Linked DNA regions of Homo sapiens. The protein of the gene in region 1 interacts with the protein of each later gene in a pairwise test. Each region holds a gene or a part of one and is shown on either strand. Other genes may lie near its edges. The genes, in order: CCP110, DCAF10, MAP2 and MPZ.

Evidence for each region.
Region 2: the proteins of CCP110 (region 1) and DCAF10 interact in a two-hybrid assay, tested with the Homo sapiens proteins (one study listed by IntAct).
Region 3: the proteins of CCP110 (region 1) and MAP2 interact in a two-hybrid assay, tested with the Homo sapiens proteins (one study listed by IntAct).
Region 4: the proteins of CCP110 (region 1) and MPZ interact in a two-hybrid assay, tested with the Homo sapiens proteins (one study listed by IntAct).

The regions. Positions count from the first base shown.
Region 1 is NC_000016.10:19,540,942-19,547,970, reverse strand, and holds part of CCP110 (centriolar coiled-coil protein of 110 kDa), read right to left. Parts: intron 6,085-7,029; coding exon 5,907-6,084; intron 5,351-5,906; coding exon 5,211-5,350; intron 5,094-5,210; coding exon 4,977-5,093; intron 3,175-4,976; coding exon 3,073-3,174; intron 2,878-3,072; coding exon 2,761-2,877; intron 2,155-2,760; coding exon 2,081-2,154; intron 1,560-2,080; coding exon 1,497-1,559; intron 17-1,496; coding exon 1-16.
Region 2 is NC_000009.12:37,838,780-37,845,808, forward strand, and holds part of DCAF10 (DDB1- and CUL4-associated factor 10), read left to right. Parts: intron 1-3,309; coding exon 3,310-3,507; intron 3,508-7,029. UniProt on the Homo sapiens protein: May function as a substrate receptor for CUL4-DDB1 E3 ubiquitin-protein ligase complex.
Region 3 is NC_000002.12:209,686,032-209,693,060, reverse strand, and holds part of MAP2 (microtubule-associated protein 2), read right to left. Parts: intron 2,459-7,029; coding exon of another isoform or gene 2,213-2,458; intron 437-2,212; coding exon 1-436. UniProt on the Homo sapiens protein: The exact function of MAP2 is unknown but MAPs may stabilize the microtubules against depolymerization. They also seem to have a stiffening effect on microtubules.
Region 4 is NC_000001.11:161,306,969-161,313,904, forward strand, and holds the start of MPZ (myelin protein P0 isoform MPZ precursor), read right to left. Parts: upstream 3,001-6,936; 5' UTR 2,968-3,000; coding exon of another isoform or gene 2,938-2,967; coding exon 2,871-2,937; intron 457-2,870; coding exon 290-456; intron 1-289. UniProt on the Homo sapiens protein: Is an adhesion molecule necessary for normal myelination in the peripheral nervous system. It mediates adhesion between adjacent myelin wraps and ultimately drives myelin compaction.

The DNA.
Region 1 (7,029 bases):
GTTTGGCTGAAGGACTCTGTTGACAAATTAAATGAAAAATTAATTTAATAGGTTAAATTCCATTTTTTCCCATTTTCTTTCAACGGATGAAAGATGATGACTGTAAGGTAAAGGTCAACTATGCAATAATATGGCCTATATATTACCACAAATCAGAGCAAATCGACTAAAGCATATTAATATGATACTTGTATTTTGCTCACTAAGAGTCCAAACCTTAGGTTTTTATCAGCAAAGAAATGTCCAACATATAGACTAACCCTTGTGCTTTTAGATAATTTTCTTATACATATGCTTTACAAAAGCTAACTTTTCCCTTCAAACCAGTGAGAGAAGAAAGTATCACTCTCATTTTACAGGAGTAAAAAACAGGTCAGAAATATTAAAGTTCGCTTTTTAGCTTTATTTTTTATTTATTTATTTTTTTGAGATGGGTCTTACTATGTTACCCATACTGGTTTGAATTTCTGGGCTTAAGCTATCCTCCTGCCTCAGCCTCCCGAGTACCTGGGACCATAGGAGCATGCCACTGTGCCCAGCTTAAGTTAGCTTTTTTTTGAGACGGACCCTTGCTCTGTCGCCCAGGATGGAGTACAGTGGTGCAGTCTCGGCTCACTGCAACCTCCGCCTCCCAGGTTCAAACAATTCTCCTGCCTCAGCCTCCTGAGTAGCTGAGCAGGCACGCGCCATCATACCCGGCTTTTTGTATCTTTTATTTTTGTATTTTTAATAGAGACAGGATTTCACCATCTTGGCCAGGCTGGTCTTGAACTCCTGACCTCGTGATCCACCCACCTCACCCTCCCAGACTGCTAGGATAACAAGCATGAGCCACTGCTCCCAGCCCAGCTTAAATTAGCTTTCTAAGGTTTTTAAATAAGTATCAAAGATCCTCTGGACTGTCTAACTGAACTCAAGACATACCACGCTCAAAATTTCTACCACAGATAGCATGTCCTACAAAAGGTCCGGGCACATCTGGTCTGACATGTGACTAGGTATATGGCCAGGTATTGGTATGAATCTTGAGCCTGAGGACGACCCCCGACCCAATTCAGCAAGAAGTGCTCTACTGATGTCAAGTAGAACAAAGTCAACAAAAATGAAGTTTGGGATTTAAATTTTAATTTTTTAACTTTTTTTTTTTTTTTTTTTGAGATAGAGTTTCACTCTTGTTGCCCAGGCTGGAGTGCAATGGAGCAATCTTGGCTCACTGCAACCTCTGCCTCCCGGGTTCAAGCGATTCTCCTGCCTCAGCCTCTTGAGTAGCTGGGATTACAGGCATGTGCCACCACACCCAGCTAATTTTGTATTTTTAGTAGAGATGGGGTTTTCCATGTTGGTCAGGCTGGTCTCAAACTCCCGACCTCAGGTGATCCATCCGTCTTGGCCTCCCAAAGTTCTGGGATTACAGGCGTGAGCCACCGTGCCCAGCCAATTTTTTTTTTCTATAAAAAACAAAAAGCCTCTCATTAAGACTAAGTGATTTTTCTCACCTTGTTTCAGAAGGATTTTGTTTAACCAGAAATTTCTTATTTGGCATTCCCATTTCAGCAGCTCTAACACAATATAAAAATAAGGACATAATGTATTTAGAGAAGGGAAGAAAACATGCTTACAAATGTAATACAGGATGACAGAAACAAATCATCATTTAGAAGCTGGTGTACTACTGGAAGACCTGTACTAAGCATATTAAAGACTGCATTCAAGAAAGAAGAATTTTTTAAAAAAGTTATTAAGATATTTTTCCCATTAAGTCTTTATTCCCAAGAAACCTTTAGGACATCAGAAAAGGAATATATTTAGGCACTGAATATAAAGATTAACTGTTTTTAAGATTAACCAGCTATCAGTTATATGAGTTGAATGTTGTCAAATTTAGTAAATAAATTCATCTAAGATGAAATGAGATTTTAGCACCTGATTTTAATAAATTTCTTTATATAAAGGGGATTTCTATCAGCTCAACTGCAGAAAAATTAACTCTTTATTTCTAAATTTAAATATGCAAATAGACCAACAGATGACTAAAATTAATTGGTTTGATAACTAACATGACATGATACAAAAAACTTACTTCATGTATTTCTTCCTATCAAGAGACTTCTGTGTTGCAGCTGAAAGAGCCACTCGTGGACTTTTCATTTTATCCTTTAATATACAAAAGTAACGTCAAACTCTACTGGAACCAATTAATACCACTATATTATAATGTATTATAATCCCACATTGCCTGGAAAAGCTTCTCTCTACTAACATTTTTAATTTAGTTAAATCATCTTGTTTTGTATTTTTGAAGCAGTCTAATTCTAAGAATTAAATAATTAGAATTATGTAAATTTTGCTTGCTTTTCCTTTGCCAATCACACTAAGATAACTGATTCAAATCACATACTCTGATATACTTCAAATTAACTTGGAGCCTGTTTTCTAACTCAGATTTCAAAAAAAGCAAAACCCACATTATAATTGAATTCAAGGAAATTCAATCAGGAGCAGCTGATAGATTGTATAAGCCATCTGAGCAAAACATTCAAAGCTTCAACTCTAAAATCCAATAAGAAAACAATATGTAATTCTTAAATGATGTAATTCTTTTAAATCTGTCTACAGATTTAAATGCTGCTAGTAATTCCAGGAATTACTTGTGCTTAAGAATTATCAGAAGAAGGGTGCTGAAGTCAACCAAAACTGACATTTAGTATCAATTACCCTAAACCCAGAAGAACTCTATTCATTAGAAATCATATAACATACCATTTGCCTGAGCATTTTCTCTTTGCGAACTTCTCGATCATGATGTAGAATAGACATTCTTTCAGCTGCATCCATTACAAAGAATATGTCATGAATACCGTACAAGGCAGCTCGCAACTAGGCACAAGAGAAGAAAATATTGTATACATTTAAAAGATGAGGTTAGAGTTCAGGAATACTATATACCATGTACACTTATTTATAGAAAAAGATTAAAATAGTTTTCATTGAAACCTATTTTCAGTGATTAAATAAAAAAGGAGAAATATAATATGTCCATGTCTTAAAAGCCTTCAGGATCCATGTATTTACCTGAGCTAACACTCTTTCCTGAAGTGAAGCATCTTGAGCTGAAACAATGCCTCTCTTTAATGGTGCTTCTGACTGAAAACTTCTTATGAATTCCATAGTATCCTGAAAAAAGAAATGCTCCTTCAAAAACATTTTTCTAGAAAGATTTGTGATCACTGGAGTTTGCTTTTTTCTTTTTCTCAGTCAATCCAAAATTACAGTCTTTCGTCAGTATCTGTGGGGGACTGGTTCCATGAATCCCTCAGATACCAAAATCCAAGGATGCTGGAGTCCCTTATATAAAATAGTTATCTGCATATAACCTAAGCACATCTCCCATATACTTTAAATCATCTCTAGATTAGTTAAAATACCTAATAAATGTACATGCTATGTAAATAGTTGTTATATTGTTTAGGAAATAATGACAAGGAAAAAAAATTTGTACATGTTCAGTACAGACACAACCATCATTTGTTTTTTCTGAATTATTTTTGATCCATGGTTCGTTGAATCCACAGATGTGGAACCCAGAGATAGAGGACCGACTGTACTAAGAACATAAATAAAACTATTACTTATCAGAAGTCAAACCACTCACTTTCAAGCAAGTCAAAAACACACAAACTGCTTCATTTACATGTTATTCATAATATTATCTGAGAAAGATTAACGATTATTGGGGGGACCAGCCCCCAATATTTCAACATAGGTTCTTTCTATTTTTCATAAGTGTCAGCCAGATGAGAAATAAAGAGAAAGAGTACAAAGAGAGGAATTTTACTGCTGGGCGTCCGAGGGGGACATCACATATTGGTAGGACCATGATGCCCACCTGAGCCTTAAAGCCAGCAAGTTTCATTAAGGATTTCAAAAGGGGAGGGGGTGCAAGAACAGGGAGTAGGTCACAAAGATCACATGCTTCAAAGGGCAAAAAGGAGAACAAAGATCACATGCTTCTGAGGAAACAGGACAAGGGCAAAATCAGAACTACTGATAAGGGTCTATGTTCAGCTGTGCACGTATTGTCTTGATAAACATCTTAAAAGGAAACAGGGTTTGAGAGCAGAGAACTGGTCCGACCACAAATTTACCAGGGTGGAATTTCCCAATCCTAGTAAGCCTGAGGGTACTGCAGGAGACCAGGGCATATTTTAGTCCTTATCTCAACCGCATAAGACAGATACTCCCAGAGTGGCCGTTTATATACCTCCCCCCAGGGATGCATTCCTTCCCCAGGGTATTAATTATTAATATTCCTTGCTAGGAAAAGAATTTAGCAATATCTTCCCTACTTGCACGTCCGTTTATAGGCTCTCTGCAAGACGAAAAATATGGCTCTATTTTGCCCGACCTCGCAGGCAGTCAGTTATGGTTGTCTTCCCTTGTTCCCTGAAAAACGCTGTTATTCTGTTCTTTTTCAAGTTGCACTGATTTCCTATTGTTCAAACACACATGTTTTGCAATCAATTTGTAGAGTTAACACAATAGTGGTCCTGAGGTGACCTACATCCTCAGCTTATGAAGATAACAGGATTAAGAGATTAAAGACAGGCATAAGAAATTATAAAAGTATTAATTTTGGGAACTGATAAATGTCCATATTAAAATGAAATCTTCACAATTTATGTTCAGCAATTGAAGTAAAGACAGGAGTAAGAAATTATAAAAGTGTTATTTGGGAACTGATATATGTCCATATTAAAATGAAATCTTCACAATTTATATTCCTTTGCTGCGGCTCCAGCTGGTCCCTCCATTCGGGGTCCCTGACTTCCCGCAACAAACAATCAGACTTCTAAAACTGCCTAGATTACAGTGACTAAAAAGCGTTTAAGTTCTGAACTAATCTGTTAGCTCAGCTGTCACAAGACTGATAGAAACTAAGACAGAAGTGAAATACAAACGATTTACAGGAATCTTACTTTTACAGTTTGTCGAAGTTGCTTCAGCTTATCTGTCTGCATAAGTCTACGAGTAAGAAATCCTTTTGCCACTGCAGTTATTTTGTTAAATTTTGCTTGTATTTCCAGACTAAAAACCTAGGAGAAAGAAGACAGACACAATGTTTATTGGTGTTCATTTATACAGTCTAAGATAATATAGCTCTTAAGAAAAGATAAATAGATAGATGGACATGTATCATTAAGTTTACCCACTTGAGACCATCTAGTTTTGGCTCTTCCAAAAGGCCTTGTTACTGAGAGTTTGGTCAAGCCACTAGTTGATGATCCCCAGAGGTAGAATGGTGCTTCGTTTGCAGAAACAAAGCTATATTGCATGGCAGAATTTGTGAAACCTAGAGAAACATACATATAGTATTATACTTGATGTCATATAATTAGAATACGAAGAACATCCCAATAAACACTTGTGACACTCATTAAGAATAACAACTGCCTCCAAAAATGACCTACCTGCCGACTTAAAATATTTATGGACTTTAAAGCTTACATACCAGGTGGATCTTTTCAACACAAACAGCATCTCAGGATAATTGAGATATGAAGATAAGCTATTTAAAGGGACTAGGGAATTAGAGGTAATTCAAGATCACTCAGGAGAGAGCAAACTGTTTTCACTTGAAGTATATCACCTGCTGCATGAATGATCAGACTGGGCTCTAAGCCAAATTTCCTGATCTTTTCCTGGCAAAGGTAATCTTTGTTCACAAACATCTGCTCACAAGTCTTTGATCTCCTATCATGTCATTTTTCACTGGTTACTAAGCAGCTGGCAAAGAGGGTTGGACATGGAATCATTTGAAAACAGGAGATATAATCTTATAGTGTGCCAAATAAATATCTTACCGTAGGATCACTTTCCCAAATGTAAAAGGATTTTTAAATATTTACCAGAACTATTTGAATTTGAAGTATGGAGTGAGTCCGCTTGAGACAGCATTGTTTCCAGCAAACTAGAGTCACTTATTTTTCTCCATTCTAATTCCACTGCATTGTTAATGTCCAACTCAGAGGCTTCCGCTGTCATTGCCTTCTTCTCTTTTAACATTTTCTCCTGCTCTTCTATTTCCTATACATGAACAGTTTATTGTAACATGCTAAACCTTTTAATTATGTCCCAAAATGATATCATTTTAGGCTTAGCCAAAAGTACATGTAATTATCAGCAATTATTATTTATTTCAAGTTTTTCTTCCTCAAATTATCCTTCCTTCCTTCTCCCTTCCCTTCCCTTCCCTCCCTCCCTCTTTTCTTTTCTTTCCTTCCTTCCTTTCTCTCTCTCTCTCTCTCTCTCTCTCTCTCTCTCCTCTCTCTCTCTTTCTTGTTTCAAGAAACAGAATCTCGCTCTGTCCCCCAGGCTGGAGTGCAGTGGCACGATCTCGGTTCACTGCAATCTCCACCTTGCGGGTTCAAGTGATTCTCCTGCCTCAGTTTCCCAAGTAGCTGGGACTACAGGTCCATACACCACCATTTTGTATTTTTTAGTAGAGATGGGATTTCACTATATGTTGGCCAGGCTGGTCTCAAACTCCTGACCTCAGGTGATCCATCCACCTCGGCCTCCCAAAGTGCTGGGATTACAGGCGTGAGCCACCACGCCCAGGCTATAATTTAATATGTGATAATGTATAGTTAAATTATTAATTATAATAATATTATAACAAGTGTCGTTCTTTTTTTTTTTCTTTTTATAGAGACAGGGTCTCCCTCTGTTGCCCAGGCTGGAGTGCAGTGGCTAGACAAAGGCGAAATCATAGCTCACTGCAGCCTTGAATTTCTGGGCTCAAGCAATCCTCCCACCTCAGCCTCCTGCATAGCTGGGACTACAGGCTCATGATACCACGCCCAGCATGAGTGTCATTTTTATGATACAACTCCTGCAGAATGTGTACTTTAGCACCTATTTATAAAATACCTTTTTAAAATATTAAGCTTTAAATCAAGGATTCAATAAAATATTCTCGATAAATTATGCAATTACTTTTAGATAAGGATCTAAATATCAAAATTCATA
Region 2 (7,029 bases), on another chromosome or scaffold:
ACTCTGGAGGCTGAGGCATGAGAATCACTTGAATGTAGGAGGTAGAGGTTGCAGTGAGCACCTGGGGGATAAAGCGTGACTCTGTCTCCAAAAAAAAAAAAATTAAAAAGAAAAAAGGTTTCAGTTCTTCATACAGTGAACACTATTCAGCCATTAAACATGATTTTGTTAATAAACCTTTAATAATGGCAATATGTTTTTGAGATAATATTAGGTTTAAAACAGAAATTAAGCTAAACATCAATAAAGTGGTTATTTTTGGTGATGGATTTTTTTTTTCTTTTTCTTTTTTTTGAGACGGAATCTTGCTCTGTGCCCCAGCTGGAGTGCAGTGGCACGATCTCAGCTCACTGCAACATCCGCCTCCCGGGTTCAAGCAATTCTCTGCCTCTGCCTCAGCCTCCGAGTAGCTGGGATTACAGGCGCCCGCCACCATGCCCAGCTAATTTTTTTTGTATTTTTAGTAGAGACAGGGTTTCACCATCTCGGCCAGGCTGGTCTTGAACTCCTGACCTTGTGATCCACCCGCCTCAGCCTCTCAAAGTGCTGGGATTACAGGCGTGAGCCACTGCGCCCAGCCGATTTTTTTTCATTAAAAATATTTTCAGTAGAAATGTTTTTTGTTATCGTTATTTTTAAAATAAGAGATGGGGTTTCGTCATGTTGCCCAGGCTGGTCTCAAACTCCTGAGCTCAAGTGATCCATCCATCTTGGCCTTCCAAAATGTTGGGATTATAGGTATGAGCTACCACGCTTGGCCAGGAAATGTATTTTTATAATTAAAAAATAGTTACTGGTAATCACCATAGAATAAATCCATAATGTATTCCCTAGTCATCTCTACTTTCCCACACACAGCACTCCTAACTGCTGCTTCTCAGAGGGCACCATCCGCTCACATGCCTGTGTATCTTTGCTTAGTAACCCTGACCACTTAGGGAGTTCCTGCTCATCTTTTATTCAGTTCAAATGATAACATCATGAAGTCTTTCCCAGCCACCCTCTTTGCTTATTCCACACAATTATTTCGTGTAATTATGTACTTACAGTGTCTTTTCTGCTAGGCAGTGAACTTCTCTTTCATTTATTTTGTAAGTATTTGTTGAGTGCATATGTGTCTGGCACCATGTGTATTGTATACTGCAGATCTAACCATGACCCTAGGCAGACAGGTTCCTTCTGTCTTCAGGGAGTTTACAGTAAAGTTGTTCCTTACAGTATAATATTAAGTATTATGATAGAAGCTCCCAGAATGCTTTGGGAGCTCAGAGAATTGGTAGGTCTACCAGGCTGGTTAAACAAGGAAGGCTTCCTGGAGGGCATAACAGCTGAATACAGTTATATGCCACATAACAACATTTCAGTGAGTGACACCATATACAACAGTGGTTCCAGAAGATTATAATGGAGCTGAAAAATTCCTATTGCCTAATACTTACTATGTTATACTTATTATTGTTATTTTAGAATGTACTCCTACTTAAAAAAAAATTAAACTGTAAAACAGCCTCAGGGAGGTTCTTCAGGAGGTATTCCAGGAGAAGCCATTGTTATCAGGAGATGACAGCTCTGTTCCTGTTATTGCCCCTGGAGGCCTTCCAGTGGGGCAAGATGTGGAGATGGAAGACAGTGATATTGATGATTTTTACCCTGTGTAGAACTAGGCTAATGTGTGTCTTTGTTTTTAACAAAAAAGTTTAAAAAGTAAACATTTTAATAGAAAAAAGTTAATAAAATAAGGCTATAAAGAAAGAAAATATTTTTGTACAGTTGTACAATGTGTTTGTGTTTAAGCTGTTATTACAAAAGAGTCAAAAGTTTAAAAAATTAAAAATTCATGAAGTAAAAAAAGTTATAGTAATCGAAGGTTAATTTATTACTGATGAAAAATTTTTAAATTAATTTAGTGTAGCCTAAGTGTACAGTCTTTATAATGTCTACAGTAATGGACAGTAATGCCCTAGGCCTTCACACTGACTCACCCCTCACTCACTGACTCACCCAGAGCAACTCCCACGCCTGCAAGCTCCATTCATGGTAAGTGCCCTATACAGGCGTAACATTTTAAATCTTTTATACAGTACTTTTACTGTATTTTTTCTATCTTTCAATATACAAATACTTACGATTGTGTTACAGTTGCCTACAGTATTTAGTATGGTAACATGCTGTGCACATTTGTAGCCTATGAGTGATAGGCTATATACCATATATACCATATAACCTCAGTGTGTACCATCTAGGTTTGTGTAAGTTCATTCTATGATGTTCACACAACAACAAAATCACCTAAGGACACATTTCTCAGAATGTATTCCATCATTAAGTGACACATGATGGTATTAAAAAGAAAGCAAGAATTAGCCAGATCCAGGGGCAGGAGGAAGGTTGTTTCACCTAGCAGAAACAACCTGTGTAAACGCCTGGTATTTGAAAACCGTGATCAATTTTAGGAAGGTCGTTATGGTGTTTGTGGATATTGAGGTTGATTTCTGACAATTATATGTAAATTTATCTTAGAAGAAGCACCAGAATTCATTTCTTCTGTAAGAGATTAGGATAACAGCATGTATTACAGAAAGCATCCTAATGTTAAATTAAGCAAAAATTCAAGTGTGAATAGTAGTTTATTTTTTAAGTATTTGTATTAAATATATTCTCACTAAGGATTGAGAAGTTAGTGTAAAATAATAAAAAGTCTGAATTATAGAGTATTTTAAGCCTATTTTGTAATTTTCTTGATTGGTCCTAATAAAATGTTGCTAAGAGATTATTTGGGAAATACCTTTCAGTTAAAAGATTTAAAATAATGGCAATTTTATAGCAATTTTTGTATGTAACTGTGTTCTAAATAGAAAAAGATGTTCCTTGTAGCAGAGCAAATATTTCTCATGATTTTGATTATGTGTAATGTGTCCCTCTCGGCAATCAAGTCTTCAAAACTTCCTCTATCGCCTATTAAATTCTCTCTCATCATTTTTGTTTCCTATAGAGATTCTGAAGTTCTTTTTTTCCCTTCTGTCACTGTTTTCCAAACACTTACCCCTATTTCCAATTTCAAATAAAAATCAGTAATTTAAAGCAAATGGATCCAATTGCAATATGACTGTCATTAAATCATAGTATCCTGGCTCTGTGATTATGCAAAGTATACTTTTTATAGTATATCAGTCATTGGGTTTACATAGTGAGTGTGTAGTCCTTTTTTTCTTTCTTTCTTGACTAGGTAATATAGTGACTGTTTCTCAAATCAATTTTCCTTTAAAAAGAGATTAAATGAACCAGGGTTTTGTTTTTCTGCTTTTATAGATTTCTTGATAACCGGCTGTTTGCTACCTGCTCTGATGACACTACAATAGCACTATGGGATCTGAGAAAATTGAACACCAAAGTATGCACTTTACATGGTCACACTAGCTGGGTGAAGAACATCGAATATGATACTAATACAAGACTCTTAGTAACATCAGGATTTGATGGAAATGTCATTATTTGGGACACTAACAGGTTTGTGAATAGGAGACCATGTTAGGATTATGAACAAAAACATTTTTTTTAAAGATGGTGAACAAATTCAGTGTTCTGTCCTAGCCTCAAGAAGGAAACTGGCTTTAGGAAAAGCAACCAAAAAGTGATGATATATTTTGTTAATTGTACCTAGTCATATATTGCAACTAAAAATTTTGGGGAAAATTATACAGGAAGGAGACCAAGTAGTATAGTTAATGATGAAAACTGGCTTATAAAAAAAGAGTTTCCTGAATTTAAGGAAAAATATTTTTGTTATTTCTCCTGTGAAACTAAACTGTTTCTCACTTTTTCTTCCCTCAATTCTACATATATTTATTTTGCAATTTTTGTTCTTTGTTTTCATGCATTAAAAGAGTAGTTCTCATTTGGAATGGTACTGATCTCAAAGGGAATGTTTAGGAATAAAGCGTGGGGCAATTTTGGTTGTCACTATGGGGGAAGAGAACTATCTACTAGCATGTAGTCAGCAAGGACCAGAGTTTCTAAACCTCCTGCAGTACACAGGTCAGTGTGCACAGTGGACTAGTTGTCCCACCTAAAATGCCAGTTATGCCTCTGTTGTGCAACATTCCAACAAAATGTCTCCTTATAAAGAAATTGATATTTAAAGAGTTGAAGTTTGAAAAACAATTAAAATATGCCTGCTTTGCTAGCTATGGTGAAATGATAATATAGTAAACACACCATGATCATTTCTGTGTATATTTGTTTTTGTTGTTGTTTTTGAGACAGGGTCTCGCATTGTCACCCAGGCTGTAGTGCAGTGGTACAGTCACAGCTCACTGCAGACTGGATCTCCCAGGCTTAAGTGATCCTCCTGCCTCAGACTCCTGAGCAGCTAGGACTATAGGCATGAGCCACCATGCCCACCTAATTTTTTATTTTTTGTAGAGACGGGGTCTCGCTATGCTGCCCAGGCTGGTCTTGAACTCCTGGGCTCAAGTGATCCTCCTGCCTTAGCTCCCAAAATACAAGGATTACAGGCATGAGCCACTGTGTGTGGCCATCATTTTCGAAATATTCTTTTTAGAGGTCATATGTAAAAAGAGAGGGGCTATTCTTGGAGATTTCTAGCTACCCATACTCTTTGAGTGGAAGGCAAAAACTATTGGTTATCTTTAGACAAAGACAAGCATACCTACTAAATGAATTTGTTTACTAAAATTTAGAAATAAAATTTGAATAGAAATATAAATGTAACTTCCAAATTAGTAGAGGGTAAAAAACTAATAAAACATGATCAATCCCATAGAAGCAGAGAAGGGAAGGAAAAAAGATAATTATTTAAAAGAACAGGTAAATTAGGAAGCACAAAACTAGTCATATACTGCAACTAAAAAGTTGGAGAAAATTATACAGGAAGGAGACCAAGTTGTATAGTTCATGATGAAAACTAGCTTACAAAATAAATTTCCTTAATTTCAGGAAAAATATTTTTTGTTATTTCACAAAGCATAAAACTAGTAGGCAGATAACCTAAGCTTTAATCCAAATATTAATAACTGTGATAAACGTATATGGGCTAAACTGTCCAGTTAAAAATAGACAGTGTTAGATTAGATTAAAAATAAAACAGAACTGTATTTTCTTTGTAAGGGACACAGTTAAAACATACAAACCTAGAAAAGTTGAAAGTAAAAGGATGAGAAAAAACAAACAATTATACGTCAAAGACAAAACAGTTGTGGCTACATTAATAGCAAACAAAATAAAGTTTAAGACAAAAAGCATTACTGATAAAAAGGTACTATAACAAAAGATTAATTTCACTAAAATATAAAAGCTTGTATGCGCCTAAAAACATAGCATAAAACTATAAAAAGTAAAAGTGGACAGAATTACAAGAAAGAAGTGAGAAATCTCCATCTCAGTGGAAAATATTAACAGCATTCTCTCATTTACTTATCTAGATAAGATAGACAAAAATGGGCCGGGCATGGTGGCTCACGCCTGTAATCCCAGCACTTTGGGAGGCTGAGGTGGGCAGATCACTTGCGGTCAGGAGACCAGCCTGGCCAACATGGTGAAACTCCATCTCTACTAAAAATACAAAAATTAGGCCACGTGTGGTGGCTCACACCTGTAATCCCAGCACTTCGGAAGGCCGAGGTGGGTGGATCACCTGAGGTCAGGAGTTTGAGACCAGCCTGGCCAGCACGCAGAAACCCCATCTCTACTAAAAATACAAAAATTAGCCAGGCGTGGTGGCTGGCACCTGTAATCCCAGCTACTTGGGAGGCTGAGGCAGGAGAATCACTTGAACCCAGGAGGTAGAGGTTGCCGTGAGCCGAGGTTGTGCCACTGTACTCCAGCCTGGGCCACAGAGTCAGACTCTGTCTCAAAACAATAACAACAGCAACAACAAAAATAAATAAAACACAAAAATTAGCAGGGCCTAGTGGCACACGCCTGTAATCCCAGCTACTGAGGCAGGAGAATCGCTTGAACCTGGGAGGCAGAGGTGGCAGTGGGCCAGCCTGGGTGACAGAGTGAGATTCTGTCTCAAAAAAGAAAAATAACAACAACAACAAACAAAAATGGATAAGGCTGTGGAAGATTTAAATATTATTAATAAGCTTGATGTATTACACATATTTAGATTTCTGCTACCAACAACTAGTGAAAACATCCTCTGAAGCAAACTTAGAACCAGTACAAAAATTGAGCATGTACTGAACTACAAAGTAGGTTTCAGCTGGTACCAAAGAACTATTATCACACAAACCATTTTCCCTGTTCTTAGTATCATTTAGTTATTAATTAAAAATTCTCATGTTTAGAGACTTATAAACTCACTTTTAAATAATTTATGGATCAAAGAAGAAATCATACTGAAGACAGGTTGAAAATTGATGAACTAAGCATCTTACTCAAAAAACTGGAAAAAAGTAAAAGGATAAACCCGATGAAAGTAGATGTATGGAAATGATAAGTGTAAAAGCATAAAATTGATGATGTCAAAAATGAAAATATAATAGAGGATTTTTAAAAGCCTGCTCTTTGAAAAAAGCTAATTGAATAGGCAATTCTCTGGCAAGATTCATCAAGAGAAAAAAGACATAAATAACTAATATCAGCAATAAAAAGGAGACAACAATATAGAAGAAGATGATAGATGAGCTTTATCCCTATATACTTGAAAACTTTGATGAAATAGCCAGTTTACTAAAAAAATACACCTTAGCAAAACTGGCCAAGGAAGAAATAGAAAACCTGAAATAGACCTATTACTAGGACTAATATTTAGCCAATATGTACTGGTTCAGCTGAAGTACTGTTAAAAGATTGAACTTCTTCCATACCAATTCGTAAATAGGCACTGCCCTGAGTTACCCTCTGACACCCTCTGACTACCCAGGCCCCTCTTCTAGAGATACCTCCCACAAAACCTTCCCATGATTCAGCAGCAAAAGTCCCCCTTACACAATATGGCGATTCCAGGACCCTGTTCCAGCACAGCCATCTGCATCTATTCTGACTGGCAAGTGTTCATGCGGT
Region 3 (7,029 bases), on another chromosome or scaffold:
ACATCTTTTTCCCTCATGGGAGTCAGAGGGCCAGGAGATATGGGGGCAACTAAACCCCACTCATCCTTTTTTGCTTCCGTTGGCATTTCGATGAACCAGTCCTTTTGTTCTTTTGGAGTTGGAGGCTCTTTAGGGAGGTCAATGCCAGGTACTACAAGGCTTGGTTCTGTCTTCTGTTTCATGTCTTCCAGGCTGGCAACAAGAGTGTGCCCAAACAAAGCTAGGGGTGCTTTTTCTTCTTCCGTGCCTTGCATGTCCTTTTTATCAGGGTAAGTTTTAGTTGTCTCTGGCTGAGAAACTAAGGCAGCATGTTTAAGGTCTTCACCAGGCTTACTTTGCTTCTCTGACTCCTTTTCCTTCTGGTCTGAAGGCTCAGCTGTAGAGGGAGTCAATTCCTGTTGATCGTGGAACTCCATCTTCGAGGCTGTAAGTAAATCTGAAGTAATCGGGTTGATTTTTAAACAAATAATAGGCAAGTGCGTTCAGGAAATAAGCTTAAAATTATATTTTGAAGTGATAAATGAATGGTAGAATAAAAACAAAAATTATGGAACATGCAAGCATGCTACCCATGTAAAAGTCAATATGAAAAGGTCAGGACTGAGATATATGTGTACTATTACTAAAATGAACTCTGGTTGTAAATTAATGTGCAAAGGAATTGTAAGAACAGTATATTTCTGGATATTCTTTTCTCTTTTTTTCTTTGTTTTTTTTTTTTTTGGTCTCTCCTAAACATTATGTGATGTGTATTACAGAAGAAACAAATTCATGTGCCTTCTATACATAAAAGTTATAAGCTAATGAATATTGAGTAAGCAGCTAATGTTAGGGTACAAAAGAATATATAGTAAGGACTAAATATAGATAAAGAATTGATTTATACTGAACATTTTCATTGGTTTTATCATTTAAAAATGAATTGGTAGGCTATGGGCAGAGGGCCAAGTAATGCACAATGATATAATGTTAATAGTTGCAGTTAACTTGATTAACAAATGTCAGGGCCAATTCTTTAGGCATCCACAGGTTACTGGCATAAATTTTTAGAATTCATCTGAGGATAAATTTCAGAAATATAAGTAAATATTTGCTATCAATTTTATATGATATGACTTAAGAATTTACAAGCCAGTTTCTATTACATATTTAAAAATTTAAATTCCTAATCATTACTTAGTCTGTACGGTAGATATAAGAAAATCTGAATTACACTGTTGATACTGGGAAGTCATGTGAGTAACAAACTTTTCAAAAGAGTCAACTATTGAAATAACTTTATTCCCATGGTCATGACCTCAATCCTTGGAGCATGACTAACTGGTGAAGCATTGGCCAGTATTGGCTTTAGAGGTGCTTCACAGAAATTAGATAACACATTTTTACTTTTATTTATTCAACAATCCAAAAGGCTTTATTGTCCCACTTGTGTTTTAAGGTCAAAGTAGTTCACTGTGGTCATTAGAGCTAAATGTAGTTATCTGGAAAAGATTTGGGGAAAAATAATAAAATTCAATCATCTCTAAAAGAGCAAGTGTATGGATCATCATTACCTTATATACTTATGTGTCCTGTTGTAACAATAGAAAAAAAAATACTTGATGAACTTCTAATAAAGGTTAGATGAATGAAAACTCAAGAGATATGGGGATGATCAGAAGGGCTGGCTGCCATGGGGAGAAAATGATATGAGAAGCATCAGCAGGAGGTCAAGAAAATCAAACCAGTATTCATTGAAGCATAAAAAATATAGCACATTTCGGTTGCAAACAAAAACGATTCCACCATTTAAGCCTCTATGTGCCAAAATCCAACTGTACGATTTGAAATAAAAGCATATGAATTGCTGTCCCCAAAATAAAAACAAAAATATACATGTATTAGCAATGTGACTGGCAAACATTTGAGATGAGGGGGGGCGGGTAAAAAAATAAAATAAAAAAAGAAGCTCACATAGCATCATCAGCCTGGCTGCAAAGCGTATTGTATCATGGCAAAGGAAAACCAGGAATCAGCTGCAGCACTGGAAAACCAGCTGCCACACAGCACTTGCGCAAGCCACACTCTCTGCACATTAAGCCTACAACAGTGGACTTGTTATCATAAGACCCAGCGATGAAATAGCGAAATAGCGTTGGAAAGGCATCAGGTTGGTAAGCCACTGGAGAGATCATTTGCAACAAAACACATGCAAATCCTGAGAAAGACACACCTTCCCCAGCAGAGGAAGGGGTTTTTACTTCTGGAGACACCTCCTTGACCTCTTTTACACTTTTCTCATGTGGGGCCCCTGCTGGGGCACTCTCTTCGGGAACTATTTGGGCCTCCGCACTAGACTCCATTTGGCCCTTACTGAGGCCCTTGGGTTGGTCTGAGGACTTAGCAGCCCCACACTCTTTCTCAGGAAGAGCAGCAGGTTTCTCTTCCTCAGCCATCCGACTCTCTAGCGTTTCTTCTTCTTAGGGATGAAAAAGATGTTGACATCATGACCACAGAACAATACATGAAACGACAGAAATATTGCTAAAGGAACACTTTCAGCTCCATTAGAATGACCTCATGAAGACCTCAGCTGTTTTTTTATTTTACCATTGGGATGAACAAATTAATATTCTAATGCAACATACATTAGGTACTGGTTGGAAAACTATGATGTATAATCTGCTAATAGTGATGACTTTTAAAGTCTCATTAAAAGGCAATTTATTTTAAAGTTTGAGAGCTGAAAGGGTTGTATTGATTGATTACCCTTATTGGAAACGGCAGTAAGTTGCACGCATGTGGAAAGCTTGCTGGAAATAAGAGATGGTACTGCCGGATAACAGATGGTTGTGAAAAGATGGATGTACTGATGTACTGAAAAAAAAAAGCCTTTAAATTTGTTAGACATGTGCTGTTTTCGCCAATGCAGGAAGCCCCTACATAAGAATTCCCGGCTGCTTTATTTAAAATGTGCAAATTTTGCTAAAGAAATCTTTGGGAATAAAAAAAGCCTTGCTTCAAAAGAATATCCAACCAACTACCTTAACAGCTTTATCACAAAGTCCACCAAATTTACTTAAAATATAATTTATTTAGCATTTCCAAGGTAAGGGACTACCTAAGTCAAGTTATGTTAGCTTCATTGCATTGTATGATGTTGGAGAAAATGAACATTTTCAAAAAGTAAGTAAAATAAAATGTGTTAAAAACAAGGTCAAGGTTAAATTTAAATCTGTTTACAAAAGTCTACCTCTGGGACACAACTATTATCATATTGTTAAACTCCCTGAAATATCAGTAATGTAGTTCATGTATAATTCTCTTTGACACTAAAGAAAAAATATGCACATTAGTAATAAAGTCTTATTTCTGTAATTCAAAACAAAATCACCAAGGAAAGATAATTGAGTGGCAATCAAACGGCCAAAATAACCACCCCCCAAACCATGTATATCACATAAAAAAGTTAACATTTAAGATGTAAAGATAAACTTTTCAAGTTCATGAGTTATTGCACTAATTTGTTTCTCATTTACACTTGAAATGTCAGTAAAAATAAGTAAATTCCATTTGGTCACTTAAGGAATTAGAGAGAAATATATGAGCTGTTTTATAGTTTTGTAAATGGAAGATTCTTACAAAATTCTTATGAAATAATTGTGCATTGTTTAAACGGCCCTGAGGGAAAGACTACAGATAAAAAGAAAAGGAATTTTCTTTTATTTTGTTTTTTAGAAATATTAATATCCTCAGAGAGAAACAGAGAGAGAAAAAAAAATCTACATTATCAATCTCTTCACATTTAGCACTCATTTTTAGTTTTGTAATTTAATTATGGCATTTTAAGTAGCATTTTAAAAATTTAAATTCTAACTTGTTATTTTAAGAAAATTTTTATAATGCCATAGATTTTGATTACAGTTAAAAGAATTTTAATATAACTGCATTATAATGTTACCTTTTTGGATAAAGTCTAATCAAGTTAATTTACATGTTTTCAAATCCATGTAGCTTTTTAGCTTTTCATTTTCTCATTTAGTATAAATCATATTTATTTCCACTACAATTGTTCCTAATTTAAAAACTCACATATTTTAGAAATTTAGTTTAGAAGAACTTAGTTTCACTTAATAGGGGTTATATTTCTTTATCAGAGAACCTGAGCTATTGGTGTTCTGTTTTCAAAAGGGTCCTTGAAGACGTTTATTATGATGACCATAGTTGGTGAGCTGTAAGCTTATTCCTTATTGCTTTAGAACTATCTGCTTTCATATTAAATATTGTCCCTTTTGGAAATAAACTCTTCGCCTAAGCAAAAATATATTTAGCTGTACCTTTTTTTTCTTTACCAAAACTACCTAGTTAGAATGAGACACATTGCAGCCCATCACCTACTTATTTTATCCTCACGATAACCAATTATACACTTGAGTCTCCCAGCTTTATAAGGCTAGAATGACAAAGGCTTTGAATCATTTCCTTCATTTTAGTCCAGCTCTACTGATGTGAGCCAAGATTTAGTCACCTGGGGAAGCCTCTGTAGTTTCTGTAGATGATTACATGATATGGGGAAATAAATTGTTTCCATAACATTTATTCTGCTCTAAACAGATTCTTCATTCTTTCTCTTTTAAAGATCTATCATATTAATATAGCACTAAAAAGAAAGCTAATGCTATTTAAAGATGCTATTTAAAGATGCTATTTAATAGTAATATTATGTGTCTAAGGAGGAAAAAAATTATATTCAGAGTCATCTTCTTTGGTTTGGGTAAAGAATATGTTCTTCCCCAGCTGATTATTGGCAGGGAGCAGAAAGAAGCCATACTTTAATGGAATATTTTTTTGCTTCTCTCTCTCTTTCTCTCTCTCTTTTTCTTCCTTCTCAGAAGCAATGATACAGAAAAAGGAAGTGCTCACATGCCTCTAGTAAGGCTTCTTTTATATAAATTGTTAAGGCATTTGGATAGATTCAACTTATATAGGAACTTCACTTTCATGCAGAGAAAACAGGCTCCTGCCCCTCCCACCCTGTATTAAGGCACACTTAACATGATGTAGGTGGTCAAAGCTGTAGGCCGGGGCGGAGGAGCAAAAGGGGACCATGCTTGGTTCACCTTTCTCCTGGCCTAAGTGGGCCTCTGCACTCTGCGCTGTGACACTGGGGAGCACACTAGAGGTGGTCCGTTCTGAGCTGAACAAAGGATGCTCATAGTACTCCTCATCGGAATTGTAAGGGTCATCATCAGGCACAGACACTGAGATGGAGGGGGCTAGGAGTCCACGCCTCTCCCCGCTGGTGGCAGGTTCATGGCTGGGGAACCTGTGTAGAGGACCCACTTGATCCTCAGCCCCTTCATCTACAAACAGACACACAGGAAGAAACTGCAGGGAGAACTGGACAACACAGACACAAGATCAGACGGACGAAACAAACACCTACACAAGGGCAGGAAGGGCCACAGAAGCAGCACAGCAGGATGAAGGGAAATTAGCAAGATCAAGCTGATGGAGGATGGGAGACAGTGAATGTTTCATGCCTCAGTAACTGCTGAATTCCACCTATCCCTTAAGCAAGTTTGCCATTGATCTAAGTGAACCAAAAGCATTGACAGCCCTGCGGCAAAATAAAAATCATCTGTACATTCCTCTCAAACAAGTCAGAATAACCAAGGAACGTTGGAATAGAAACAAAGCATTACAAAACAAATGCATTCTTTGGAGGAAATTATTTCATGAAGGTTAACTCTACTCATGCTTAGATCAATATGTTTATAAGTTTAAAAAGAAGAAAGTTATTAGGATTTAACGCCTGTAAGATTATGAAGAAAACAGTCCTGTTTAAAACATAGTCTTAATTATCTAGGATGCACAAGTAGTGTTTTGGTTAATTTAATTCTAGTTAATAACTTTAACCAGAAAGTCATTTTTAATTTCAATCCTGTTAAGAAAAATCTACAATGCATTATGCCTCTTTCCTGCCTTAATAAGAAATGCGCAGTCAGCATAGCTCTTTCTTTGGATGCTAAGGCTAATGTAGTACCTAGAGGCATCATTTTAAACCAGGTTCTGATTTGCAGGACACTAAAAGTATACTGTTTTAAGAAAGCCTCTAATATTATAAACTTGTTTTCTTATGTTTTGTTTTCCTTCTGAAAGCTTAGCAGAGATACAATTAGCTAAAAATTTCTGCAGAGTCGGCTGCAGATTCATCAAGACTTTATTCCATGTAGTTTCATTTGTACCACTGGCTCTTGGCTGTTTTTCATGTTTCAAACCTCTTATTGCATATTTCTTATTGAAATGCTAAAGTAACTACTCTCATTTCTGTTCTTTCCTGTATCTTGCCTAGGAAATTTGCATTATTTAAACATATCTCCTTAAATATACAACTGTAGATCAGTCTGCTTAGCATTTGGATTCTCGTATAACTCAGTGAGCACTTGGCTTCTGATGTGGTGCAGACGTTACATCTCAGGCCTATGTGGTGGTTGCTAAATTTGCTAATCACTATTTATTTACTTATATTGAGATATCAATTTAAAATTTCATGACTCTCAATAATAAGAACAAAATCTATAGTATCTATCTGTACAGTTTTTATTTATATCAGATTTTAAGAAGACAAAATTATAGCATTAATTTGCAAATATACTGTATTTTTAGGACAGTAACTTATTTTTGGCAACCAAGTGCTGACAACTAGAAATAAGTCTGAAATCATGAGGATACTAAAATAACATTTTGTAGAGAGAATACATTTAATCTTTCAAGCACATTATTTACTGATTGTTCCATGGAAGATGTTTCTGGATGGATGCTCAGAACTTTCTCAGCCACAATGCTTTTTATATCATGGGATAGCAGAAGCCTAAAATAACGTTTGATATTCTTAGTTCAACTCGGCACGATTTCGCAGCTGAGCAGATAATTGTCCAAGATCTGGCCTACAACACTGACTGAATCATAGCCCTGGCTTGTCACATGTCCTAGCCATTCATATTTCTCTCAGTGGATCTCTGGGGCTGTAAATTCCCCATGTATGCA
Region 4 (6,936 bases), on another chromosome or scaffold:
AGCTGTCAAAGCTTAGCTCCATAATTTGTTACAGAAAGAAAAAAGCAAAAAAAAAAAAAAAAAAAAAAAAGCTTCGCTCCAGCCTCAGGGTAAGGGATCTTGGGCTGGAAAGGGTAGTGCTGGAGAAGGGAGGACAATGTAGTCAGGGTGACAAAGACTGTCATTTACCTTGCCAAAGTTGGGGTTATGGCTCAAAAAGGATTTCCCCCTCCTTAGCCCAAGTTATCTTTTTTGTTGTTCTTTGAAGCACTTTCTGTTATCCAACCCCAGGATTCCCCCAGGCACTCACCGAAATGGCATCTCTGCCCCCTTCGGGCTGGTAGCGCCAGGTGAAGGAGATGTCATCTGAGACCCACTCACTGGACCAGAAGGAGCAGTGCAGGGTCACCCGGGAGCCCACAGCACCATGGACCTCCCTGTCGGTGTAAACCACGATGGCCTGGGCCGGGGACAGCACTGCAAGCACAAAGTGGGGAATCAGATGCACCTATGGGCCCAGTAAGGGATACAGAGGAAGTGAGATCAGTAGGAAATCAAGTGCTGAGTCACAGGTCAGAGGCCAATTTGGAAAAGAAACAACAAATTCTGAGCCCCAAGTCTCTGGGGACTAACTGAACAGATGAGCATAAATGCTGTGTCTGTCAAGCTCTTTAGCATGTCTGTAGAGAAGATGAAATCAGCAGTAACAGAATTCTCTTGAGGACTTCCAGAGATTGGGTTCTGTCTTTAAGTCTCACTTCTCCTTTGGGTCAGTATCTAACTTTTAAGCTATCCTTTAGATGCAGTGTTCTAAATTTTTAAAATTTATTATAAATTATACAGGTAATACATATTGTACTCTTCTTATAAACTATTCAAGCAATAGAAATAAAACAAAAGTCTCCTTTGACACTTAGCCCAACAAATTCCTTTCCTGTATTCCCTTCCAAGATGTAACAAGTTATCCATTTAATATGAATCAAACTCAGTATAAACTCAATAAACTCAAGATATACACATACTTACAACAAATAGTTTTGTGGAGTTTTTTTTTCCACATACATATTGCATTGTATTCTAGTGTCTTTTTGCTTAAGAACTTACGTATCTGGAGGAGCTTTCCCTGTTGATTCATAGATATCAATCTTATTTTAACAGCTGCATTGGATTTCACAATACAGCAAACTCAGATTTCTTGCAGAAAAAAATGAAGATAACTAGAAAATATAAGTCTTCTTCCCTGGCACAACTGTCCTCATTGCTGAATCCCTGGTTGCCATACAGCTTGCTCTTGACTGGAGAGTCAGGAAGGGAAGGGCCTCATACCCCTCTCAGCTGGGTGCAGAGCAACACCCCAAGCCTACAGCTCAGATGACCCTACATGTGAGCCCTCTATGGTTCAACTGTCCTCACCTTCCTCTTGGCCACTGTGGCCCAGTGCCATCCCCAAGACTTACCCACACAAGGAAGGTCATTCCAGAGAGACTATGTGTGTGGGCTGGCCCCAGGGAGGGGCAACTGTAGACCTTTTTGTTCTACAGGAGGGGGAGGTGGCAACCAAACAAAGTTCCATTGTCTGACCAACGCTGGGGGGCTCATGCCACCCCTACTCCCACCCCAACTGTCCTGAATCTCTCACCTCAGCATGCAATACCATGTACTTACCTTCTGGAACTTCCACCTTAGAACCTTCTTGGGAATCCCCCTTGTTTAACAAGGGAGATAATTCACTGGCTCTAACTTCTATTCCTCCTGTTACAATATCAACCATTGCCCTTCTCAGCTGTGCTCAATGGTTCTATGAGTGGAACAAGTGTTGAGACACAACTCTCCCTCTTCCTTATACATCAAGATTCCTTCCCCCTATTTCCCTCACTATGCCCTTCTCCAACTCTCTATCTTTAACATTTTCTCAGGGTACCCCCAAATAGCCCAGTACAACCCAGAAGAGTCTAGGGCTCAAGCAGCTGACAGCAGAGAACCCTGGGCATTCTGGCCAGCCCCCTTTCCCTTGATGTCCTCCCCACCACCCCCACTTGCCTATGGCTCACTCATTGCACTAGGATTCAGGGCAGTTCAGAGAAGGGAAGGGGCCATTCCAATAATCCTGCTTTGACCTCTTACTCACCCAACATCTGCCAGGGGGCAAGGAAAGGGCTGGTCAGCTTATGAAGGAAGACAGCTTTAGAGGGATAAGATCCCAGAATCTCATAGAACCTCACTCCATTCACCCACACAACAGGTGAGGAGCCATAGAGAGACAAAAAATCTGAGGAGCTGAGACCACAAACCTGGGCTCCTTACTTAGATCGCACTCTCTTTTTCCTTCTGGGAAACTAAGGTTAAGGCACCTCCTGCACTGCTAGGGGACGAGTGGGAACCAAACCCAGGTGTTTGAGCCTATTTCTTTATGTAATCTAACACTGCTTCCCACCAGGCTGTTAGCATGGCTCTGGGGGCATGCTACTATTTCCAACCTGGGTCCAGCCATGGCCACCACTCAGGGAAGCTTGCTACACTCTCTTTTACCCTTTCTTTTAAAATAAAACCTCTACTTCCTCCCTCTAAATGCATATTTTTTTCTTTTCATATATATATATATATATTTTTTTTTTTTTTGAATTTTACAGATGGAGTCTGGTTATGTTGTCCAGGCTGGTCTCCAACTCCTGGGGCTCAAATAATTATCCCACCTTGGCCTCCCAAAGTGCTGGGATTACAGGCATGAGCCACCATGCCCAGCCGCATATTTTTTCTTTCTGAATATAATGTCACCTTCCTGCTCCTGCTTGTTCTTTCTTTGGTTGCAGTGGGGAGTGCAGCAAAGGCTGTGGGGATTGCTGAGAGACACCTGAGTCCCAAGACTCCCAGAGTAGAGTGGCTCCACTTACCCAAAGAAGAGAAGAGCAGCACAGCCAGGATAGGGCTGGGGCTGGATGAGGGAGCCCCAGGAGCCATAGCTGGGGCAGGGGCAGGGGCCCGGAGCATCTGTGGGGTTGAGAAAGTGGGGGACCAGGAACTGAACGGGGGGTTCCTGGAACCTGCTTAAAATCCCCTAGGGCCCCAGCATGAGGGGGCTGTCCTCAGCCAGTAACCAATTGCAGCCTGGCATGTGCAGTTGAGAGGTGGTGGGGAGGGGGGCAGAGTGCAGGGAGCAGAAGGGGCATTGTATAGTCTGGGTGGAGGGGTGGGGGGACACATACCACCCCATACACAGAGGGCTTTGTGTCCACTGGCCTCCCCCTGCCCCAGGCTGGAATGTTGTGGGGGGTGGTGAGGGAGAGGGACAAAAACAGGGACACAGACACACTTCTCTGAGGGATAGATATGGAACCTCAATTTAAAGGCCATAAAAAGGGATTTCTCCTCAGCCTCCTTGCCTGAGAGAGGCTGCCTCACAGCCCTAGGAACTAGAGGGAGGTTTCCCCCAGAGAACTCTGAAAATAGGATATCCCCTGTTATCTCCTCTAATGTGGGCTGCATTACAGACTTCTTGAGATGACCAAGTCCTATGGGAGTTTTTTTCCCCGCACCTCCCTTCATCCTGTGCGATTCTTCCCAGACAGAAGTTTTTCTCCACTGGACTATTTCCAGGCAAGAAGCCCCTGACCTTTCCGTTTGTCAAGAAGTCCTTCAGTGCTTCATGCTGCTGTTTAAGTCCATTTCAATTTATTTCAAGGCTACAAAATTGTATTAAGTGCCAGCAATATGTAAAGTATGAGAATGCAGGTAATAGAGAGAGGAATAAAAATTAAGTCCTTCCAGCAAGGAGTTGAAAATTTGGTTTGGGGAGGTGGAGATGGGAAGATCAGAGGACAAACCCATCAACAATCAAGTATAATAAGCCATGACACTTCCTTTAGTAATGAACAAAATGCTGGGAGTACAAAAGAGGGGCACACACAGCTGCAATATCAGGAAGACTAAGTTATATGAGAGATTAAAGACAAAATAAACTTTAATAAATGAAGTTTATGCCAGGCATAGTGGCTGACACCTGTAATCTCAGCACTTTGGTAGGCTTATGCAGGAGGATTGCTTGAGTTTAGGAGTTTGAGACCTGTCTGGGCAACATAGCAAGACCTCGCCTCTACCAAAATTTTTTAAAAAATCAGCTGGGCATGTTATCACATGCTTGTAGTCCCAGCTACTTGGGAGGCTGAGGCAGGAAGATCGCTTGAACCTGGGAAATCAAGGCTGCAGCGAGCTATGATTGTGCCACTGCTTTCCACCCTGGGCTACAGAATGAAACTCTGTCTCAAAAATAAATAAATAAATAAATAATCAAACAAATAAATAGTTCAGAGGGAAGAATAGTTGTGTCTAGGAGGCAATGTTAGATATGAATCAGCCTTGAAGGATGACTGTCATTTTGGAAAGGGAGATAGGGAGGGTTACCAGAAGATAGAACAGCAAAAGCAAGGACAAAGAGGTGAGACGGAGAGACAGAATGTGTGTGTGTGTGTGTGTGTGTGTGTGTGTGTGTGTGTGTGTGTGTGTGTGTATGTATATGAGATGTAGGTTTCTGAAGTGTTGGATATATTCAGGGCCGATCTTGTGCCATCCACTTTGACTTGATTTGGGGAAACTTGAAGTGGCATAGTCAGAAATGAGACTGGACAGGAAAGTCGAAACCAGTTTGTGAAAGGCCTTAAATGACAGGTGAAAGAAGGTGAATTCAATTTGGTACATCATGAGAACCTGAAGGTGTTGGGGTGGAGTTAGCCATGGGGATGTCTACATAACCAGAGCTGAGGTTTTTTTGTTTGTTGAGGCAGTCTCGCTCTGTTGCCCAGGCTGGAATGCAGTGGCATGATCATGGCTCACTGCAGCCTTGACCTCTGAGGCTCAAGCAATTGTCCTACCTCAGCTTTCCAAGTAGCTGGGAACTACAGGCGCATGCCAGCATGCTGGGCTAGTTTAAAATTTTTTTTTTTTTTTTTTCAGAGATAAGGTCTTGCTCTGTGGCCCAGGCTGTAGTGCAGTGGTGCAATGATAGCTCACTGCAGCCTCAACCTCCCAGGCTCAAGCGATCCTCCCACTTCAGCCTCCAGATTAGCTGAGCCACAGGCAGCCACCACCATACCCAGCTAATTTTTCAATTTTTTGTAGAGATGAGGATCTCACTGTGTTGCTCAGGTTGATCTTGAACTCCTATACTCAAGTGATCCTTCTGCCTTGGCTTCCCTAAGTACTGGGATTACAGGTGTGAGTCACCGTGCCTGACCTCTAGAAGTTAATGTAAGTGGGGTGGTCATTGTTATTCCTGCTATGAGACCACTGCAGGCTCACCCAGGTGAAGGACAGTGTCCTGGTACCTTCCTGGCATCTCATTAGACCACAGCCCTGGTGGGTATGGTCATTAGTATTAGATTTGGGTTGTGGAATTCTAAATATGGGATTGCTTATGAAGTCCATAGGCAAAACCATCATCATTGACAAATGTTTACAGGATGTTGTAGTCAACATTTCTATAAAACAGCAATTCAAAGTACAAAAAAAAAAAAACCCCCAAAACTCTCCCCTCCAAAATTTCCACCTAACTCCACCTCCCAACTGTAAGCAATCATTTCCTCTTTATCTAACCACCCCTTTTATCAACACCCTCTTCAATGGGTTGTTGCTACTTTCTTTGTTGCATGTCTTTATTGATCCTGCTAAGGCTATAACCTTCTTGGGGACAGTACAAACATCTGTATCTTTGAATCCCCTACAGAACTTTTCACGGACTGACAAAAAGTCCATAACTACATGCTAAATGAAATTATTAATATTTAAAGAGCTGAGTGGGCTGGGAGTGGTAGCTCGCACCTATAATCCCAGGACTTTGGGAGGCCGAGGCCGGTGGATCACTTGAGGTCAGGAGTTCTAGACCAGCCTAGCCAACATGGTGAAATTCCATCTCTACTAAAAATACAGAAAATTAGCCGGGCATGGTGGTGCAGGCCTGTAATCCCAGCTACTTGGGGGGAGGCTGAGGCAGGAGAATCGCTTGAACCTGGGAGGCAGAGGCTGCAGTGAGCTGAGATAGCGCCACTGCACTCCAACCTGGGCGACAGAGTGAGACTACGTCTCAAAATAAAAGAAAAAGAAAAAGAAAAAGAAAAACCAAAAAAGATCTGAGTGAAAAAGGCATTCCTTGGGTTTGTTAACGTGAAGCTCCAGAGAGCCAAGTCAATGACTGGAATTTCGATAGCACAAAACTGTATTTAAATATAATAACTAACGAATAAGTTGTTCATTAAATAAAACTTGTTGTTTGAGGTACCCATCATTGAATATGGGGGGGTAGAGTCTTGAAGATCAGCTGTTATGGGTGTTGCAGAGGAGATCCCTGCATAGATAGTAGATTGGATTAGAGAGCCTCTTTCAATCCTAAAGTGTACGAATGTGCTTTGTCAAGCATTATAGAAATGCAAAGTAGTATTATTCATCTGATGCAGAAATAAGTGAATTTGTGCTATTTAAATCCTGAAGTGCAGGGATGCTAAATATACATAAGATCTGAATATTAATATAATTGAGTATTTTTTTTGTAGAAATAGGAGTTGCTCTAGCCTGTCCCTTTTACTCCTCTCCACCCTACTCCCCACAAGAGTCAAGAACTTTTGTGCTCTGTTCCCTTCCTTTATCATTTGCTCTTCTTCTTTCTTCAGTCTTGAGTGCTCGGCAGTTGATTCCTGTGCTTGGGTTCCCTAAAACTGTATATATATATATACACATATATAAATCAAAGCGTGTTCTTCCCCTCACTCCGGGTTCTTCTAGCTGTGGGTGTCACCCACATAGCGCTGAAACAACGAACAAGGGAGCATTGTCCTCGGCTAGTGGGCGCCTGGTCCATGTGGCAGCTCAAACCCAGGAATTGTGGGGTCTAATCGAGGTGGTTAGATGAGGCTCCTCGTTTTCGGGAATGGTGGTCCGCAAGGTCTTCTCGAGGCCCCTCTACACACTCCC